Linked DNA regions of Homo sapiens: region 2 is linked to region 1. A link means that fine-mapping ties the variant in region 1 to the expression of a gene that starts in the linked region. Tissue or cell type: amygdala. Region 1 holds a variant in brackets; the other region holds the start of a gene. All regions are shown on one strand. Distances are from middle to middle.

Region 1 (8,181 bases):
GACAGAGAAAAACAGAGAGAATCAGACAGAGAGACATACAGAGAGAGAGAGAATCAGATAGAGACAGAGAGAGACAGAAAAAGACAATCAGATAGAGATAGAGAGACACAGAGAGAGACAGGGAGAATAAGATACAGAGAGAGAGAGAGACAGCATCAGACAGAATCAGATAGAGACAGAGAGAGAGAATCAGACAGAGAGACACAGAGACACAGAGAGAGACAGTAGAGACAGAAGAGATACACAGACACACACAGGATCAGATAAGAGACAGAGAGACACAGAAAGAGAGAGAGAGACTGAGATAGAGAGAGACTGAGGCAGACACAGACAGAGAATCAGATAAAGAGAGACAGAGAATCAGATAAAGAGAGACAGAGACGGGGAGAAACAGAACCAGAGAGAAACTGAGAGCAGAGAGAAAGAGAGAGAATCAGAGACAGAGATAGAGAGGGAGAGACAGGAGAGAAAGACCGGGAGGGAGGCTGCCCTTCCACCTCCAGGGAGTTCATCCCATCCATGCCTCCCAGCAAAGGAAGCTCTCACCATGGCCCCTGGCTCTCGGATTCCAGCACCCTGCGCTCGGCTTAGAGGACATACTGCATTTACATCCTTGGACCTTGGAAGGCTTCTGAGGTCTGTTACTTGGTAACCGCCTGCAGCACAGGAGATGCTGCCTTCTGTTGGAGGCCTCGAGAGACTCCAGAAATGGGAGACCTTCAGGAAACCGTGGCTTCAGAGGGGAGAGAGATGGTGAGTGCATTATCTCCATAATCTGTCTGAGGCCAAGAGAGGAGGAAAGACAAAATTATTTGAAAATTTCCAGTAAGAGGAAGAGAAAGTGTTACATTTTCACCGCTTTTAAAAAGAAGGAATTTTAAACATAAAAAAATATGATTTATCAAATTCCTTGAGTTACTCCTTGCTTTCTTTTCCCTAGGCTAAATCTCACTTCCTGTGTGCAATGAGCAAGCCATTAATTAGAATTTGCAGTACTACAAGAAGCAACGTACTGAAGTTGAGCTGTGCCATTGAGCTTTGCTTAATAACTTTTTGCTGCTTTCATACTTTTTTGAAAATCTAGATCAGAAGAAATTGGCCACCTGGAGACTCTGAATCTGAAGACCTCTTTTCGAACTTTTCACAAGGCTGCATGCTTTCTATGGTGTACGTTGTGGAAAAAAAAAATAGAATTTGGCATCACTGAGTTAATCAGAAACCCTAAGTTTTATGAGAACTTTTGTTAAACACCACACACACACACACACACACACACACAAAACACTAGATGGGTACCACTGCTTTAGGAAGAGAGAGTTCCTTGATTTTTCAACTTAAAGTATCTTATCTTTGAAGGAATTTGCTTTGTTTTTTTCTGGCCCATCCTAATGCCTCTACTTCATGGCATGGAAAAAAAATCCACAGCATTCTCTGGGCAACAGGATAAATAAGCCTTGAAGATAATTTTAATTTTAAGATAACCTTCCCATATATAATAGGCACATTAAAAAAAGATTAATTACCATTATTATCTTTGAGCACATTGGCCTAAAGAAGTCAGTTCTAGTCACAGAGTCAAAGCTGGCACATCCCACATGAAGACGCGTGAGAGTCCCAAATCTCAAGTCATAGCCAACACCCCAATATGAAGAGAAAGGCCTTTTATGCAACAAGTGTGCGTCATTCACAAGACCACGCACTAGAGGAATAGAGTTGTATATTATTAGCAGCTCTCTCTCTCTCTCTCTCCCTTTTTCTCTCTTTCCCTCTCTCTCTTTCCCCCAACCTCTCAACCAGTATGAAAGTGAAGCTATCTAATACCACCCCAAAAATATCAGATGTTGTAAAATTAGCACAATATGAGATTGCAAAGAAGTATTTGTCTTTGGGCTAGGAGTCATGGCAGAAGAGAAAAGTAGAATTACACGTGGACCCTGGGAGGCTGGCAGGGATTCCTGGTGGAGGAGACGCCATGAGTCCCTAGGTTCGACGTCATCTGAGGCCCCAGATGAGCATACATTGTTCTACTAACACAAGGGGGATTATTTCAAAGTTACTTTCCAGGGTTTTAATTGATGCCCATTTTGGCGATGTAGTACCTTTAAAAGATTACGTTATGATGTAGTTTCTGTTTTCAAAAGCAGGGGGAGTAAGAAAAATATCCCAGAAGTGCATTAATAAAAGTGCTTACAATTTTATAAAGACTTTACTCTTAGACAGCTTTATTTCAGTTATCTGAAAAATTAAATGTGAACACTGTTTTGTCTGGATGAAGCTAGATAAACGAGATATATAGGTGTGTGGGCACACCTCACACCTCACACAAAACCCACAGCTTACTTCAATACAACTTTTAGTGAAACCCACTAATTTATAAGCTCTTTTGTAATGTAAACATGAAAATAGATATTCTTCCTCCTTCCAAGAGGTGGTTTGATATCCACAAGATTAACTTTGAACAAAGATGCTACTGAAAATACTCAAAACCTCGCTTGTTCCAGTACTGACACATCAAAAGGGATCCTCCATGAACTTACTCCTGAAAGCCAGCCATGCCCATGAGGCCATTTTCTAATAAAAAGGCATTTCCAGTTTTCTTTTTTTTTTTAATTCCACTTTTTCTAATGTGGTTTTCCATCTCCTGTTTAGAGTCAATAAAAATGCTGAACTTTGACCTAGAGCATAGAATGTTTGAAAATGCAGAAGGTGCCAGCACTCCTTTATTTTGATAGTTAAACACACAGGACAGTTTTACAGTGGTTCTGTTAGAATAAATAGTTAATCAATAGCAAATTAGGTATAATTAGGTGTGCGTTGCAGTTTTTACCTCTGATGGACCCGACAAGCCTTGCAGAAAACTCAGCCCGGAAAAGATGCCTGGATGGCAATGTGGGAACCTGGTGGTTTCTCCCTTCTCTTCTGCATTAGGGCCAGTCTGGGAGTGAAACCTGCCACGTCCCCTTAGACCCTGGGGTGTTGAGTGGGCACCCGCTTTCCACAGCATGGAGCTTGGCTTAATTATCAACACCCCCTCTGTTCTAGTGCCTTATTGTCCAGGACAATGAACTGTCATAGCACAGGCAGGTTCAGCAGCCAAGGGGTGTGGCCTCAGGGCTCAGGGGACACCCTACAGAGAAACCTCAAGGAAAGGCCCCATGCAGGGCTAACCCTGCCCCTGCTGGAACCTCACCTCCCAGTCCTCGCCCTGTGTCCCCTGCATCTCTCCCAAGGGTCTGCAGGGGAAGTGAGATTCCTCCCGACCGCGTCCTCACCCTCACGCCTGCCTGCTGTGCTGATGGCTCCACCTTGTAACTGAATGTGACTCTGGCATTCCAGCTCTCGTGGGCTGGCCAGCACCTTCACACAACTGAGCATTTCATCACAGGTGCCTGGCATGGCCCAGCATGCATCACCTTGGGCCTGGCGTGTGGCTGGGAAGGGGCTGCAGTGATCAGCAGCCATGAGCCAAGCTCACCTGCAGCACACAGAAGCATGCAGGGCCAACCTGGTAGAGTCGTCAGGGAGAGGCGACATTGCTGCCATTACCAAATAGCCCACATAAATGCCCACTCCACCCTCTGAGGGACTGCACTTCGGGATCGGTCCATGCTGGGATCTGACAGAACCAAAGGAAACAGGAAAGCCCCGCCCTGGCAGAACCTCTGTCTAGAGGGGTAGGTGGGCAGTAAGTGGGAAGCTGGGGAGTGAGCCCTGAACTGCCACCCTGCGGGGAAGCTGGGGCACACTGCACAGGTGGAAAGAGGGGTTCTGGGTGGGGCTGCACAGGGGAGGCACCACCACGCCGGAAGGGGATTTCAGAGCTTAGACAGAAGCAGGTGATATTGGAGGGTCTAGGTGGTCTCCAGGAACAGGCCTGTCTCAGCACCCCTGGGGTAGCCAGTGCCATGGGGTGGCCCCCAGGAAATGTGGCCCTCACACTGCAGCCTTGGGTGAGCTAAGACCCTCGGGGGAGGCGTGCACTTCCTGTCCCCATGGCCACTGGAACCTGTTGAAGCTGAGCCTGAAATGCAAGCCTCAGGCAACCAGAAAACTACATGATCACCTCAGGTTGCTACTGACTGATTCAGGTATTGGTAGATTCATTTCACCCCATTTCAAGTGGATTTGATGTGGCTTACAACACCTGCAATGGCCACAGAGAACAGGGTGATGGGGAAGGAGCAGGCGTGGAGAGGAGACCCAGACACAGGCAGGAGCATCGGATGCTGAAGGCACCTCTGCTCCTCTACCTCCACAGAGCCAGCCCCCAGGACCCCCGGGGCAGCTGTGGGGCATCTCCCTGCGATTTTATGCTCATTCTGTTACTCCCCTCCCCCAGCCACACGGAGCCTCCCTCCTGGGGGTCCTGACTTCATTGTACCCTGGGGCAAGGCGGCCTTTCAATCGCAAGCTGCTGAAAACCCCATTAATAAAAACCCTGCTAGGGAGGGTTAACAGGAAAAAAAATCAGTTCTTCACCATCAATTTGATTACTCATTTATTGAGGGTCTACTGTGTCCATGGCATTGGGCCTGGTCCTAAATTCAGGGAAATTTAACAGGATTTGGGAGGAGATGAGACCGAACATGTGGTGCCACAAAACCCAGACCCTGCGGCTCTGCAGGCACAGAAGGTGTTGGGTGGACACTGCGGCTCTGCAGGCACAGAAGGCGTTGGGTGGAGACTGTGGCTCTGCAGGCACATGAGGCGTGGGGTGGA[G/T]ACTGTGGCTCTGCAGGCACACGAGGCGTCTGGTGGAGACTGCGGCTCTGCAGGCACACAAGGCGTCGGGTGGAGAGCGCTGACCAAGATTGAAAGTGGGCACATTCCTGGGCCCCCCAACATTCCTGGGACCCCACAGAGCCTACAGCAGCCTCAAACCCCAGCCTCTTCATGCCCCTGGACTGTCATCAACACCCTCTGCCAGACACCAGCAAGGGAGGTTCTTTCTGTGTCTCAACAGCAGCTCTGAGCAGGGATTCCTGTTCCATGCTGTCTCCCCAAGTCCTTCTGCCATGACTGGGACCCCAGGCAAGCCAGCGCCTGGGCACCAGTCTCCCTCCTCGCCATCTCCTGTCTGTCTCTAGGCTGTGGCAGCAGCCCCATATTTCCCCTGGACGCTGACACCCTCGTGCAAGTCACCTCCGTGGGAAGGTGGCCCTTGGAGACAACAACAGCCTCACATTGGGATCAGCCACCCTTTTGCAGGGAAGCTCTAAGTGGCCATTTCCAAGCACTCTGTGATTGGGTGCCTGAGATGGTTGTCATCAGGATCCCAGGGGGGAGGAGGCCTCCATCGTCTGAGGGGCTTGGCATCTCAGGGAGGACACTGGCCTTGGCAGAAGAGGAGTAGAGCAGAGAAAGCGTGCATGCCCCCCAACTCTGCACACACGCACCCTTCCATCACTGTCACGGATCGGCTGGTTTGTTTATCAGTCCTAGGCCAAGACCTTAGTCTTGGGGGGTGATAAGAGGGCAAATCTTGGAGTGAAAGCACACAGTCAAGTTCAGCACCATCTAACTGCATTAAAAATGGGTAATGAGCCTTCCTTGCTGATGCTGACCTGTGCAAAGAAGGCCTGCCTCAGGACGGCTTGTTTTCATGAGGACTGAAAAGGTCAACACAAACCAAGAACAACAATATGCTACCCAGTAGCAAAAGGAAATTAATGAATAAGGAAAAATCATAGCAACAATTCTAGCAAGCAATGACTTTCTTTTGCACACCGCACAAATTAGCTATTTCTCATTTGCCCCCCGAGGAAGTTTCTCTTCCTCCCCTAAGAGCAGATGTCAGTGGTAGGAGGACAGAATCCAAAAGGTGAGCCCCGAGCTCTGGAAAGGAAGTGGGATGCTCCCGGGAGGAGCACAGATGGCTTGGTCTTCCCGGGAGCTGGCAGCAGCCTGAGATTACACGGAATGAATTAAACCCAGTAGGGGCCTTGGCAGTCCTGGTCACTGCTACGTCCCTAGCAGGGCCGGTGCACAGTGGGTGCTCAGGAGCATTTGCAGAACAGATGCCCCAGTTAAAAGCTGAGACTGGGCAGCCATGCTGAGCTGTCACTGGCCAGGGCTGTGCTGCAGGGCGTGAGGTGGCCCCTCCCAATAGAAGCAAGCAGGGGACAGACCCGCTTTGCTTTTTGCAGTGTGTGACCTCCTAGAACATCAAAGATATTGGATGGCCAATCAGAGTTCACCCAAATTACTGGAATACAGTGACCATAATCACAAAGAGAAAGGCGCAGCCCCGTCCCCAAGGATCTCAGCAGGGTTGATGGAGCCCAGCTCTCTGTATTGAAAACCATTTTATTTATAGTGTCGTTTTTCTCAAGAACTGATGCTTTTCGATGGATCTTTGTGTAAGCTGGACCAGTGGAGATAGCGGTCTCTCCTGGGCAGGCTCTGCTCCCACTGGGAACCAACCCTGGGTCGTGTGGGGGTGAGAAGAGCCCTGAGGGGCCCTGGGCCTGTGTGATGGTCACCTTCACGGGCAGAGAGAAAGCAGCACCCATAAGCAGGCAGCCCCCGCTCCCCCCGAGAGTCACGCCCACCACGCTCAGGCAGTAAGGCCCCGCTTCGCTGTCTGCTGTCTTCATTTATTCTGCACGAAATGTGCCCCTTGCTTGGCAGTAATTACAAATGATGAACAGCCAAACAGCACGGGCCTGAAATTTCTGTATGTGGGAAAGACAGCTGGCAAGGGACTAGTGTGCTGAGGTCAGGGGCTGGTTCTGGAAGTTCCATCCAGTCAGGGAGTGTGGTTGTCTAGGCGTGCACAAGCAAAGGGGTGCAGCTGGTGGAGAACTTGGCCCTGGCCATGGCAGGTGGGGGTGCTGCCCCCTCTCTCACATCACCCACTGCGGTGTGGCTTGCAGGACCCTGAGAACCAGGGAGGGCGGCCTGCCCCAGCCACCCCAACACCCCCTGGGGCTCGCCAGGGCCAACCTTGGAGACCTTGCCCAGATGGGGCCTTCGCCGAGCCAGGGCTCGATGGAGAAACTATGTATTCTGAGCTGTTTATTTAAGCACAGGGTGGTTCCTAATGGAGCCATCAGACCTTGCTCATTGGCTAATAGTTTAATTGGGCCCATCTGGAGGACGCTGTGGCGAGAACTGTCCCTGCTCTGATATTGGCAGGGAGGCAATTTGTCATTCTGTGGCCAGTGACTGGCACTCCCATCCCCAAAGCCACACAGAAGCCGGGCCGTCTGTCTCACGAGGGGAGAGCGGAACATCTGAAGCGTTGTGTGTTCACCTTGGCACAGAAGGAGAAACGCAGCTCTCTGGTGTCCTTCAGATAGCCTCGGCTTGGGAGACCAAGCTGCTAAAGTCAGCCTGGTGCTGTGTGGCTGGCCAGCCCTCACATGAGCCGGGAAAAGCTGCTCCACCATCTCGGACACGCGGGGTTTTGGTGACCGTGCTACATCCACGTCAGCATTTGCCAGTGTCCCTCGACCCTCTGCTAGGGGCAAATGTCCCACTGCTGAGAAGCTCCAGGCACGCACATCTTCCTCAAGTGTCATTAACTGTCAGACCTTCTTACTCCCCTATCCGGGACTGCAGTGGGCGGACAGAGAATTAAAGCTTCACTCCAGGAAAGACCTCGTGGACGGTCGGTGGAGTCATGTGCCCGTTTAATTTAAGATAGTAAGGGACAGATTAACTTAGACCTTTCACGGACCGATAGCAAGGACTTCTGATGCAGTTAGATCAGTATCTGCCACTTTTGTATGGGAAGGTGCTGTGAAGTTCGCCAAGACTGGCGGAGGTGCGTTTCCCTGCGCTGTGGTCATGTCTGGGCTGCAGCCTACCAGCACCACATTATTTATGAGCCACCTCCATTCTCCACCCCCTTCAGTATCACAGCCCCTCGAGTACTTAGCTTGTCAAAGGTCCTAGCAAAGTGTCTTTACCATCTGGTAATGTGGATGCTGACCTACTCAAAACACCAGGAGGCTCCCCTTGCAAACCCAGAATTTTCCTCTCCTTTAAGTGACATCAACCAAGGTTAAGTAGCTTCTAGAAACACTGAAGAATTTCTTACCCCCAAAAAACATAAACTAGGCTATAAATCTCACTCTTTGTAGAGCTGCCACTTAATCTATGCTTCAGAAAAGCATGTGAGAGCAGTCATGAACGTAGCCAGTCTTGCAGACACCACCACCATATTTATGGCAAGCGTCC
Region 2 (8,181 bases), 130 kb after region 1:
AGCCTCAAGGCAAAGGCATACATGCGAAACAAGTTCAGTGAGCTGGAGAGAGAACCCAGAGATGCCGTGAGCAGGGAGAGTGTGGGCCATGACTTGAGAGGAGTTTGGAGAGTATGGGGTGCCCACATACTGTTTCTAAACGGATCTTGTCTAGAAACCGACAAGCGGTCGGTGTGCATGGAGGGCTTTGGGCGCAGGGGCGGACGAGGCTGATGAACAGAAAAGCCCACTCAGGCTCCGCATGAAGAGCAGGCCGCAAGGAGTCTCGTCCTGTGGCTCCCACAGAGGCCACGTGACCCTGGCTGAAGCAGTGGCCGTGCAGAGAGAGAATTCAGTGAGACGCACTCACGAGGACCTGGCAGGCTGGAGAAAGGAGGACGAAGTGACTGTGGCCCGGGTGCTGGGTTTGGAAACTGGATGAGGAAACCCAGGACGCAAGTGTTTCAGGAGGAGGGAATGTTGTGGGTGTGGGAGGCCTTGGGGCAGAGGCCATGCAGGATGAGGTCTGAACAATGTCCCTTCACCTGGGTGCCAGGAGGGAGACCCTCACTGAGCTCTGAGAGGGGCGTTTCGGTCGGGCAACTCGGCTGCATGCTCCACATCCCATAGCAGGGGCAACAGGTGAGCAGAGGAGAAAGGCACGAGGCAGTGGACGGGTGCCCAAGGTGGCAGGAGCAGTGGGTGGGTGCCCGCATTGGCAGGGGCAGTGGACAGGTACCAGCACTGGCAGAAGCAGTGGATAGGCGCCCATGGTGGCATGAGGTAGTGGACAGGTGCCCACATTGACAGGGACAGTTGACGGGTGCCCACAGTGGCAGGAGCAGTGGATGGGTGCCCACAGTGGCAGGGGCAGTGAATGGGTCCCTGCAGTGGCAGGGTTCAGTGGATGGGTGTCCGTGGTGGCAGGGGGCAGTGGACGTGTGCCCGCAGTCACAGGGGAGCAGAGAGCGGCTTCCCAGCCATGCACTGGTGGTGGAGATACCCTGTCCTTTGCCCTGCGCGTGCCCCTGAACTCTGCCCTCTACATGCAGCAGCACTGCCCGCAAGTCTCACAACCAATAGTTTCTGCTGACATCATTCTGTCTCCTGGGGAAGCCTCCCCCTCCCGTGGAAGCTACTGAGTTGCAGGGGCAGAGGGGCTCCAACAAGGGCTATTTTTTAAATGGGGGAGATTTGAAAATGTTTAGAATCTGGTGATAAGGGTGTCGGTGAGGGGAAAACTATGGAAGGGGTCACAGGAGAGGTGACGTTGCATCGGAAGAGTGGAAGGGTGTGGGGCCCAGGGCCAAGGATGGCCATAGCTACTGTGCAGGGGCGGATTCAGGCAGATGTCTCGTGGGTGCTGATGACCCCAGGGAGTCAGATTTCTCAGGTCCTCGCCTTCCCTAATCTTCCCCCTCAATCTGTGGGGGACTCGCAGTGTTGGGCATGGTGCATGGACTGATTGGAGGATTTGTGTTGGGGATGGTGCATGGACTTATTGGAGGATTTGTGTTGGGGATGGTGCATGGACTGATTGGAGGATTGGTGTTGGGCATGGTGCGTGGACTGATTGGAGGATTTGTGTTGGGGATGGTGCGTGGACTGATTGGAGGATTGGTGTTGGGCATGGTGCGTGGACTGATTGGAGGATTTGTGTTGGGGATGGTGCGTGGACTGATTGGAGGATTTGTGTTGGGGATGGTGCGTGGACTGATTGGAGGATTGGTGTTGGGCATGGTGGGTGGACTGATTGGAGGATTTGTTGGGGTGGTGCTGCTTGGCTCCTGCAGTCAGACCCACCTCACAAGCAACATCTTGTCCCAAAAACTAGTCCAAAGCAAAGCTACATTGTGGGGAAAGAGAGAACCGTGGGAACCTAGGAAGGGACAGACCACAGGGGCAGGACGAGTCCAGTCTGGAGCTCATAGAGGGCAGATCCCGCTTGGGACCACATGCCACTGGGTAAATACACTTTCAAAATCCCAATTCCACACATTCTGCTGGTGTCAACAGAATCCACTTCCCTCTCAGGCCATCATTGCCTCATTCTAAAATCTGTGGTTCAGCTTCTGACCAAACATGACAGCATCTAACTGTTTTCACTACAAAGGGCATCACCTGTCCAGGAAAGGGCTTTCTCACCCAACGGGCAAGAGTGCCATCAACCAGCATGACAGGAGGGGTGTGGGTGATGGGAAAACCATGGAGAACTTGAGAGGGCTCACACCGGGCGCTGCTGGGATGACCAAAGACCTCAGACAAGTAACGTGAAATTCTATACCACGGTTTACCTCTATAAAACAGGAGTAAAAGTGTGTTCCTCACACCATTATCATCAGCAGTACTTTGGCGCATCCATAAGTCCTTCCTGAGAGCCTCACATACAGCAGGGACTCAATAAGTAACTGCTCATAGATTCACGTGCACTGTCAGATCAGTTACATAAATATGAAATGTGGCCAGGGGTTCCAAACATCGATACCAACGCAGCTTGAAAGGAACCAGAAATGGAGGAACAGTATTTGATATGTCCCTTTAAAAATCTGGGTAGACCAGCAGTTTAGGAAGTGAACACGGGCACTCACAGGAGGCGCGGAGCTGCTGTATCGCACAGTAACATTAATGCAGTAAGCTCAGGTGTGTTGGCCGAAGACACAGCCATTGGCGAGAACGTAGCCCACAGCCGCGGACACGAGTTTGTCGAGAGGCTGCACATGCATTCGGGTTATTCACAGCCACCTCCAAGAGGGGAGTCCATAAAGTGTGGGGGCTGTTATTGATGGAGGCAGAATTATATGCCTCTTACTGCACAGATATATCAGCCTGGCATTTTTCTACTTACTCCAGGATTTTTATAACGTTCAGTTCAATGGCATTCTTGCTTAGTGAATAATTTTAATTTGTGCATCCAGAATGATAAATTTATGAATGTTGATGACAGCAAAGACCCATCCCTCATCGGCTTCTCCCCGTGCAGCTGGGCCCCTCTCCCCTGTCGTCCATCTGATGTTCTTGCCAACACCCCTTCAAATATCTCACGCTGGACGGCTCTCCTGCTCCTCTGATGAGATGTGTGATCAAACGGAAGAAAATTATTCTGATAGACTATCTGACCCCCGTCTTACCAAACCAAATAGCATCTCACAATATTATATTTTTAACTTTCTAATCATCCTGTTATGTATATCATCCTGTTATGTATATCAAGTCTTTTTACAGCAAGTCTTTCTAATCATCCTGTTATGTATAGCAAGTCTTCTTACAACAGAAACAGCATTCTTCTTGCCAGTCATGTTAAGGGCATTGATTTTAATTTAGTTTTTGTGGATTATTGTGTTTGCTTGATTTAAAATGAAAATCAAGGAGGAAGAAGTTTTTAAATATCATCAGGCAGTTTGCTGAGTTACTACTGTAAGCAAACCCCGTAAAAATCATCAAAACAGAATCCTAGGCATAGGAAAGAAAACTCCCTCATAACCACCGATCTATGTGGGGATGAGAATGTCTCTATAAGGAACGCTAGACATGTATTTAAAATACTAGCAGAGTCATATCGTAAATGAGGATGCGATAAGTACAAGAAGCAGTTCTCCACAAGGAATTGGAAGTGAGATTCTGTGGCGAGCACTGTAGTTTTAAACTGAGGGAAGCGGAGGGAGAAGTTCCTGTAAGAATTCTTTCCCTTTGTCATTCTCCTCAGGCTCCTGACCAGTTTCTGGGTTAAAGAGAAGGGCAGTGCCTCTCTCGTCTGTGGTCACTTGGTTAATATCATCCCCAAATGCGGAAGCTTCCAAAAAGCTGGAGTGGTTTCGTTTGGAAGTCAGAGCTGTGCACAAATAAGTTATTTTCTCTATTTCACATAATTATTAACAAATGCAAATTAAGATGCAGGGGATGTTTCTATGCCAGGACTCACCTGTGGGGAACTGTGAGGCTGATGAGGCAAGCAGCGAAGTGGCTGCCTGTGCCCGCTCACGACCCCTCCACGCACCAAGTGCGTGAGTCAGGGAGGTGCCAGGAGGAGGCGGGAACAGCTGCTTCATGTCATCCGGCTCAGTCCGTGTGTGTTGCTAGAAAGGAACACCCGAGGCTGGGTGATTTATGAGGAAGAAAGGTTTGTGCAGCCATGGCTCTGCAGGCTGTACAGGAAGCGTGGCACCAGCATCTGCATCTGGTGAGGCCCCAGGAAGCTTCACTCGTGGCCGATGGGGAGGGGAGCGGCCTGTGCAGAGATCACGTGGTGGGAGAGGCGGTGGGAGGGGCCAGGCTCTTCCTACCAATCAGCTCTCACTGCAACACACAGAGCAAGAACTCATTCATAACCAGGAGGACAGCACCAAGATAATCGTGAGGGATCCACCCCTGACCCCAGCATCCCCCACCAGGCCCCACCTCCAACACTGGGGATCACGTTTCAACATGAGATCTGGAGGGGACAAACCTCCAAACCATAGCACTGACTGTGCCACTCTTAAGAGACAGTTGGACAGCTCCTTGCCTCCTCTACAAGACTAGGGATGGGGTTCCAGGCATGCTCGTTAATGACTGCCCCATCTGCACCACCTGCCCCATCTGCCCCACCTGCCCCACCTACCCCACCTGCCCCAGGCCATCTCTCCAACTTCCCACCTGTGTCCTTTCCAAATCCCAGGAGCAGCCGCGCAAGTGCAAGACCGCCCTGCTGCCTTAGAACAAGGCTTTCCCCAGAAAGCTGTCTCTACCTAGGACATGCCCTGTCCCTCGCTTCCTGAGCAACAGCCCCTCAACACAGATGCACATGCACGCATACACACATACACAAACACGTGCATACATGCACATGCACATATATGCATGCACACACGCACATAAGCACACACGCACACACACCCATACGTGCTCACACACAGACACACGTGCACATGAGCATACACGCTCACACACATGCACATACACGCACATAAACGCACGCAGACACGCGCACACACACAAGCACATGAACATACACATGCGCACACACGTACATGCTCACATACGCACATACACACACATAAACACACAAGCACATGAGCATACACATACACACCCATACATGCACGCACACGCATGCACACATGTTCAGGCCAGCTGCCTCGGCTAGCTCTGTGCAAATGGTGGGCGTCTTCTGCAAGCCACCCTGTCTTCCCAGGCTGTCTTCCTCTCAGGACGCACATACAACCCCTCCGAGGTAACAGGACACAGATGCAACCCACAGAGCCGACAGGAAAACGTGGACCACCAGCGTCGGGCTGCTGATGTACTTTGAACTGAAAAGGCCCCCTAGATACCCACAGAACTGCACGGCTGAGGCGAAGAGAGACCATGAGAAACAGAGATACCAATGTTTCAGTCAAGGAAAAAATTAGAGAAGAATGTGGAATAAAAAGAATCATAAAGTGAAATAAATGTTTTCAGATTTTAGATTTCAGATCCACTCCCGCAGATGAAATCGTGAGATTCCTGAAGAAAATAATTGCACCAGTATTTGATCATTTTACAGTTTTGATTATGCTTATTTCCAGTTTTCCAGGAAAGAAATCTTTGTGTAACCTCATATGCACGTGTTACAAGTAGAACCAGAAATTCCTCCTCCCCCAAACATACAAAAAGGAAAGCAATTATTTAAGTCAGGTACCTGACCTTTTTTTACAGCTATTAGTACAAAAAGTGTTTTCTGGGGTGGTTTCCTGGCATGAAACTCAGGATTTATAGAATCTCTTCCTGTTCGTGAAGTTATTATTATTATTTTATTACTAAAGCCCTTAACTAAAGCAAGGATGCTTACTTAAATTGGCAGCTAGCTGTGAAAATGGAAAGGTAAAAAGACATAGCAGTATGTATTTGTGGATATAAACTATCTTTAAATCTGGAGGCTCAGACATAGATTGGACTATCCTGACTATTTTCTGTGTATTTCATTCCAGCCAGACTGCTAGTTCTAGGCTGGAAATATTATTCTCAACATAGAATTACAGGCCTTTGTGTCACCGCTCACTGTGATAGCCAGCAGTTCCTGGACCCTCACAGCACCTGTACACAGCACACATGAACACACGCGCGTGTGCACTCTGACCCTGCCTACCACCTCCCCCCGGGCAGCCACCGGGCTGTGCTGTTCTCGTAATCAAAGGTGGAGATGAGGAAAGTGTCTGCCTACAGCAAACACTCAGAAATAGATTCCTGTGAAAACCAAACAAAAAGGCAATAGAAAGGAGAAGTGGGAGATACTACATTTTTCATTAGGGCTGTTGCTGTGGAGGTTTTAGAACTTGGGCTCAGGAAAAGTGCTTCTTGCTGATTGACCCATTATCCAAGTCTGGTTGGAGGAACTTGTGATGCCAGCAGGTCTGAAAATTGCCCAGAAGATCACAAACATGGATGCCTGCTGGTGGACCAAAGAGATATTAAGGAACTCTAATTATTTTCTTTTATATCTTTCCTACTGAGTATTGGACACGTTAGTCACAAATGGCGACTGAATTAGTGGGACTTATATGTGGTGATTCCATAGGCATCAAAACACCTGTGAGGCTTAGTAGTCATAAAGTCCTGACCCTATTTTTGCTCTATTGCACCAAATACATTCATTGTATTATAAGAAGTTTGTATGTCTCAGACTCTCCTACAAAATTTTGTGTACCTTAAAGATAGTGACAAAGAATTATCTACCTATCATCTATTCTCTCTCTCTCTAATCTATCTATCTATCTATCTATCTATCTATCTATCTATCTATCTTCATATCCCCAGGATACTGTCTAGAATATAGTAAGTGCTGAATAAATTAATGAAATGCTTAATTAAAAAATGAATAGGTGAATGAATGAGTAGATGGATGGATGGATGGATGGATGCATGGGTGGATATTGAGTAGACAGATCAGGTTGATTAGAGAAAGAAACAAGCTATTCAATACTGTTTATAATATGCAGGCCATTTATACAGAAAAGAGCATTTATAAAATAGGAGATTAAAAGGATGACAGATTAGAAAATGAAATGTTCAAGATTTGTGCTGATATAATGGTGAAACTGGGATGGGGAGCATCTGACTAGATTTTAGAGAGAATTAAGCCTCAAGGTAAAACATTTTGATTTTATTTCAGTGATACTCTAAATCATTGCTTGTTTCTGATAAGGAAAGAGTCAGTATTAATTTGGAAGCTGCAAGGTTGGAATAAAGTTATTTTAATGATGAGTGGAGAATCTGAAATGTTGGAACAGGCTCATGGTCAAAATGCAGAAACTCGTGATAGAGATGAATGAGACCGAGGTGCTATTCCAGACGAAGCCTCTGGCAGGTTCTTTAAGCAAATCTAATGTGAGGGGGTGGGATGGCCCAGCAAGCATAGGGGCTTTGTTCTTGGTTTCCCCAGCTCAGGGCTGCGTGACGTGCATGTAACTTAACCCTGTAACCGAGCCACCTCCAACTTCCTGATCTGTAACACAGTGGGGTGGAGACTATGTCCTCTTGCACTTACACAAAATCTTGGTTCTAATGTTCGGATAAAATATTACTTCCACTGCCTACGTTACATATCTAAGTAGATAACCATTTGTTATCATTATTAATTAATTTGTCATCAGATTAAACAGAAATTCACAGATATTTGCCATACTTGTTTCTCTCTGAAGAAAAATAAAACCTAAAGCTAAGAAATAGCCATTGTCGATTTTGGATTTGTCACATAGTGTTATCGATTTGCTATAGAAACGTGAGTCGGTGCTCTTCTAACAAAAGGATGATGTCACCAAGCAGCGGACTCACATCTGTCTGCTGGGTGTAAGGAGATAACGATTTGAAACTCACCTGAAAGAGAGCTTAAGGGCTTTATAAGCAATAACATTGTGATCCTCGCACTGGTGAGAGAGAGGAGTCGCTCCTGCCATGGGGACTGGAGCGGCACAAACAAGGTGTCTGGTTAGGAGCCATGGTGAGCTTGGAGCCCAGCATGAAGGGGCCTGGCCTGAGCTGCAGGCACGCTGTCCTCTGAGGACCTCGGAAGTATTCTGAGAAGTAGAAGTGCAACAGTCTTTAGAGGCTACTGAAAAATGGGGCTAAGATCCACGAGTTCAATAACTAACGTATAAACGGGCAAAGGAAGAAGGAGAGGAATGATTGCTGAGAAGAGGGACATGTGTAGGGTTGGCATGTGTCTGTAAGAGTCCCTAGTACATACTG

What was found. PIP is the estimated chance that this variant, and not a neighbour inherited with it, causes the effect.
Region 2: it holds the start of ADARB2-AS1, and the variant in region 1 is the best candidate, but not a certain one, in a credible set for the expression of ADARB2-AS1 in amygdala (GTEx, PIP 0.82).

What each region holds. Positions count from the first base shown.
Region 1 is chr10:1,650,100-1,658,280 of GRCh38, reverse strand. The region is part of intron 1 of ADARB2 (adenosine deaminase RNA specific B2 (inactive)); the gene reads left to right. Among named protein-coding and RNA genes, the nearest start is that of ADARB2, 83 kb to the left of the region's middle. The variant G/T (reference allele first, on the strand shown) is at 4,720.
Region 2 is chr10:1,522,617-1,530,797 of GRCh38, reverse strand. ADARB2-AS1 (ADARB2 antisense RNA 1) reads right to left here and starts at 4,168. Exons shown (of 2, transcript NR_033387.2): 1 at 3,899-4,168. All of the region lies in intron 1 of ADARB2 (adenosine deaminase RNA specific B2 (inactive)), which reads left to right. RefSeq lists an enhancer at 281-1,280.